2 separate regions of the Homo sapiens genome follow, and region 1 is linked to region 2. A link means that fine-mapping ties the variant in region 2 to the expression of a gene that starts in the linked region. Tissue or cell type: sigmoid colon. Region 2 holds a variant in brackets; the other region holds the start of a gene. All regions are shown on one strand. Distances are from middle to middle.

Region 1 (2,685 bases), 170 kb before region 2:
ATCATTGGCTTCCATGGTGAGAGTCCTTGGCGCATTTTTCTTTTTCAGCACGATTAGAAGGAATTTTGGTTTTTGAGGTTTCCTATTTGTGGCAGGACCTTGTTACTATTATTTTGGGGATTTGAGGGGAAAATCTGTGTAAGTTGAGTCCAAAAAATCCAGTATGGTGCCAAAGTAACCAAGGAGCTGAGTTTTCTTATTTATCTTTTCTAAGTAGCACCTGAGGAGCCAAATTTGTTGTATTTTCTTAGCATTGTTTTTCCTGTAAGGGTTCAAAGATATGTCTATGTAAGATGTCCCTCTTCTCTTTCTTTGTCAATGAGTTTTTCTCTTGCCCCGCTACCCTACTTTTGGTTCTGTCATGCTCACTTACTTTTCTGTTTGTTAAGTGGGTAGTCTCTCCTTTTATTTTTCTTCCTTATTTTCTCTTTTTGCCTTCACTTATTTCTGCCTTCCTTGGTTTTCTTCCCTTTTCCTGTGTCTGCACCTCATTTTCTTTCCAGTTTTCCTCAGCACATTCTCCTGTGTCTTTTTCTGTTTCTCCCGTGTGTGGTCATTTTTCTCGCAGACCCCAGCGCTACCCACAGTCTCCCTCCCTGTGTTTTTTCCTCTGTTTCTCTATGAGTTCTTTCTGAATGTTCCAGCACTGAGGTAAGTGCCATCGCTTGTTCCAGCGAGTGGTGTGATATAGGGACTATGTGCTTTCTAGCCCTGCTTGCTATAATTATTCCATCTTTCTCAGACTTTTTTTTTTCTTCTCATTATGAAGTGAGTTTGAAAGTGCAGCTAAGAAAGAAAGGACCGGGCACAGTGGCTCATGCTTGTAATCCCAGTACTTTGGGAGGCTGAGGCGGGTGGATCACCTGAGGTCGGGAGGTCGGGAATTCGAGACCAGCTTGGCCAACATAGCGAAACCCTGCCTCTACTAAAAATACTAAAATTAGCTTGGCGTGGTAATGGGTGCCTATAATCGCAGCTACTCAGGTGGCTGAGGTGGGAGAATCAATTGAGCCCGGGAGGCGGAGGTTGCAGTGAGCCGAGATCACGCCATTAGACTCGTCTGGGCGACAGAGCGAGACTCCGTCTCCAAAAAAAAAAAAAAAAAAAAAAAAAATACAGATAGGCCTAAGTGGAAACTATTACCCTCCATAGAGGGCAGAGGGGCAGAGTAGATGGCTGGTTTTGAGGTAGTTCATTCTTCATTCAGACGTGTGGCGCCCTTCCCCAGGCCCTAACCCCTGGAAGAGGGAGGAAAAAGGCGATCCACAGAAGTGTCTCATAAGAAATGTAGCTGCTCATCTGGCCATTAGCCGCATCTAGTCCTCAGGTGACTTTTCTCTGAGTCGCTCTGCCTGTCCCCTGCAAGCCAAAAGGGCAGCCGACGCAGCCCGTGATGCTGGGACAGCGTCCGGCCGCGCGCAACTGACGGTCGCGTTCTGCGCGCGAGCTAGTTGCCTCCCGTACCTGCCGCGGTCGCCGGCCCCGCCCCCGGGAGCGCGGGCCAATGGGCTGGGCTCCAGGGGGCGGGGCTGGCGGGCGGGCGGTGCGGCCGTGGCGGTAGCTGCAGGGGCGGTGGCGGCTGCAGTGGTGGTGGTGCCTGTGGCTGTGGCTGCGGCTGCGGCTGCGGCTGAGATTTGGCCGGGCGTCCGCAGGCCGTGGGGGATGGGGGCAGCGAGCTCCAGCCCTCGGCGGTGGCGGCGGCCGTAGGTGTGGGGCGGGCGTCCGCGTCCGGCACGCGAGATGGAGCGCCGTGGTGAGTGTGAGGAGGTGGCGCTTGCTCCGGCCGCGGCGGTCGTGGCTCCGGGCTGGGGTTGCCCGCGCGAGCGCCCGCGAATTGCCGTCCAGGGTCCGGGAGGCCCGCGGGGCGGCCCCGAGTGGAAGCGGTGGCAGGCTGCGCTAGGGACGGGTGTCCTCGAGCCAGGACTGGAGTCCACGGGAAGGGTCCGGCCGGGGCTAGGGGCGCGCCCGGCGAGGGAGGCGCGGACGAGCTGGGGAGGACGCCAGCGGTGGCCGGGAGCAGACGGTGACGATCGTAATTAAAGTTAGCACACAGCGCGTACAACGGGTCCGCCTGCTGTTCTGAAGCCTTTGCACATTTTAACTCTTTTAATGTTCAGAACACTCCATGATTGTTCGACTCGGTTCACACGGGGAAACCGAGGTTAAAAACCTGCCCAAGCACACAGACTAGTGGTTGGCAGCGTCAGGACCTAAACCCAGGCGCTTTTGCTCCGGAATCCGTGCTCCTGATCACTATGGGTCTGTGTTCTTGCCTGGATTCTATTCCCGCTCCCACCTGCCCTGACTGCAGCCCTCACTCCAGTTGGGCTCTCATTCCTGAGATATTTTAGGATTTCCGTGGTGCATTTTCTCCTGGTCTGTGTTTTTTGGGTTTCGTTGAGAGTTTTCCTCAGTCTCAGAGGTTTGTCCCAGTTCAATTGTGGACGTGTTTTGGGGTTTGACAGTTTTAATTAAAAAAAAAAATTTTTTGGGGGGCGGGTGAGCTGGAGTTGGACGTTTCAAGGTGGAACCCTCGTGACTGACGAGCCTCTTGTCTCTATGTTTATCTTTTTAAAACTTTCTCAGAGGGTATTGGCCCCAAATGTTTTCGGAGGGCAGGATATTACCTGCTAATGGCAGGAGCTGAGCTCTCCTTCCCTTCTCTCCATCTGTCTCTGTGACTGT
Region 2 (2,685 bases):
TCCTCCAAATTATCTCTGAAATTCCTCCTTCTTTCCCATTTATGGCCTCCATTTACAGAAGCGTGTACTGTCTCTCTTAGCTGTTTGCCAGGCCGCCAGTCTCTTGCTGTTCAGCTCTCAACTGCTTCCAGCAAGATCTTTCTAAAATCCCAGGCTTGCCAAGACTTAGCGCCCACAGCTCCACAGTGACTCCTCATTGCTGTTAAGGTAAAGGCCTTCCCAGTCTAGCCCTTCATGCTTCTTCCATGTTCTATGGGACTGCCCCAGGCTTCCCACCTGGTACCACTGAGCCTTTCCATCCTTCCCCCACTCGACTGCCAGGTCAACACCCACACCCACGCTTCAGGACTCAGGTCCTATGTTTCGGGCCTTCTTCTGTGCACCATTCCCTTCCCTGTAGCCCTTGATCATGATTTGTTTATACGCCTCCGCACCTTCATGGCCCTGAACCCCTCAAGGGCCGAAACTGCCTTACTTTTCTTTTTGACTTCCCAACTTACCTTAGTGGAGCTGTAGTCACATAGAATAGACGCTCATAAATGCTTCTCTGGGCTGTAAAGGTTGAATTTTCCAGCTAAGCAAGGAAGAAAGACAATTTCAGGCAGGAGGAAGGGCATAAGCAAAGTGCAGAGATGTGAAGCTCAAGAGAAATGGATGGGCTGGGCAGAGGTGTGGCTGCAGCATCAGGGGAGAAGAAGTAGTGCCTGGAGTCAGCAGGCACGGCTTGCAAAAGCTTCACCTATAGGTGAAAGGACACCATCTCTTGCACCAATAGGCTCTGTGATTGGAGGCAACTTTGCTGTTTTACTGCCAGAAAACTGAGGATGATAACCCAAACTGCAGTTCAAGTGGCATTCACTGGTGTGGCTGAAATGGGTGTTTGTGGCCAGAATGTGGTCTGATTGGTCAGTGCCCAGCTCTGTTGATTAGCAGATGTTTTGAATATAGTAGCATCCATGTGCCCAAGTTGTTGGGATGATTCAACAAGAAACTTTAAGAGCTCAAGTGCCCTGCAGTTGTCAGCCAGGTGATTCTCTTCCTTTGGACCCAGTTAGACGCAGGCATTACCTCGTGGCTTTGCCCCAGTGTGAATCTTTGTCCTCCAACTTGATCTTTTTATTTGTTTCATTATTGTATTTAAGTTGTTTATTTTAGAGACAGACATTTTTTAACAGCTGTGCATTTCCTGTCCCTTTGTTTTCCAGTCGTCATGTGTTTCCTTACTCTCTGTGGGTGAACGTTTCAGATGTCTGTTTGCGGTGCCCAGCGTGCAAGATAAAATTTATTGCAGTGCCTTCGGCCTCTAACTCACCATTCCAACCAATTCAGATAGCCCAAGGCTGTTTTATCCAGTGGATTTTTCCATGTAGTGGGAAATAAATCTTGAATGTTACTGTTTAGATTAGCCAGGAAACTCATTCTGGGATGTTTGCCCACATCCA[T/C]TGGCATTTCTCAAAAGGAACCCCAGGTGTCTACCTTGACACCAGCAGGGCCACTTGAGCCCTCCGCTGGCATTCATCGCCCGCTTTGTTCTCAGCCTGAGTTTAGGAGTTACAGATGTGAGAGGCGGGATTATACAGCCAACATCTCTAAGCGGGCAGTGGCTCCCTTACCCTCGAAGACCTCACTCCTAGCACGTCCTGGATGTATTCGTCAAAATATGTCCTCTTATGCCACGTCAGCACAGGGTTGCTCCCCACTTTGATCATCAAGTTTAAACAAAAGGAAAGATTTTCTTTCTTTCTCTGCCTCTACTGGACATCATTTCCCACCTAACAGATAATTTAATGTATCTGTTACTGAATGTGTTTGAATTACAGACAGAGAGGTCACAGTTAAAGAAGGAAGCCTGCTGCTACTGCAGCTTGTCCTCCCAAGGAGGTGTTTGATTTAGCTGTGTAAACAAATGACTGCATTCTCCAGAGGTCCTGAACACAGCTGCCTGCGCTGGAGAGGGCTCAAACCTCTTCCGCCAGGGTGAACTCTGCTTCCTGGTGAGTGCCAGCAAAACAACCAACAAAGAGCTGTAGGACTTGTGTGGACTTCAAATGGTGGTGGTCCTGCCACTTGGGCTCAGCCACAGCAGTTAGGAAACTAAAGGGGAGGAGGAAAGCCCTTTCCTTGCTTTATTGTCATTGGCTGTCATAGGGCATTACAATGGTTCTCTTTGAGATTCTGAGCTCCGGCTATAACATTTGCCCAGAATCTGCCTCTGAGGCCTTAAGACACTGTGTTTTTATTCAGCAAAGATGCCCTTTGACTCCTTTTCCCACTAGTGGTGCTAGGTTTGAGCACCTTACACTGGCCCCTTACAATAGCCAGTTCTTGTCTACCTACATTCTTCCCTAACATTCATGATTGCATAGTTACTCTTAGTGTAGAAGCAGACAGCTTTTACACATAGACTCCATGGCCGTAGCCTCATAGAACCTACTATATTCTAACTTGCAAGCTAATCAGACCAAATATATCAAAATCAAAAACCTCTGCTGAGAGTTTATTCATTCATCTCTGTCTCCCAAACGTACTTATGTACATACGTGCACTAATATACATGTCCATTAGCCAAGATTTTGATTTCAGGGATCAAAGCAAGTACCAATAGGGAATGAGGTCACTTGCTGCATGGCAGGTGGCTTCCCCATGAGAATGCAAGGCCACCTCATGACTCATACTTCAGAGGGT

Which allele goes with the higher level. Positions count from the first base shown, and alleles are read on the strand shown. Sizes are in standard deviations (SD) of each study's normalised expression.
For the expression in sigmoid colon of the gene that starts at base 1,584 in region 1, T is the low allele of the variant in region 2 and C is the other (moderate effect, 0.44 SD a copy in GTEx).

What was found. PIP is the estimated chance that this variant, and not a neighbour inherited with it, causes the effect.
Region 1: ARHGAP29 starts here. The variant in region 2 is fine-mapped to the expression of ARHGAP29 in sigmoid colon (GTEx, PIP above 0.99).

Annotation. Positions count from the first base shown.
Region 1 is chr1:94,236,483-94,239,167 of GRCh38, reverse strand. It overlaps ARHGAP29 (Rho GTPase activating protein 29), which reads left to right and starts at 1,584. Exons shown (of 23, transcript NM_004815.4): 1 at 1,584-1,753. RefSeq lists silencers at 1,381-1,610, 1,621-1,860.
Region 2 is chr1:94,068,376-94,071,060 of GRCh38, reverse strand. All of the region lies in intron 11 of ABCA4 (ATP binding cassette subfamily A member 4), which reads left to right. It overlaps LOC124904222 (a long non-coding RNA gene), which reads right to left and starts at 702. Exons shown (of 2, transcript XR_007066231.1): 1 at 501-702. RefSeq lists enhancers at 1,248-1,805, 1,996-2,685. The variant T/C (reference allele first, on the strand shown) is at 1,443.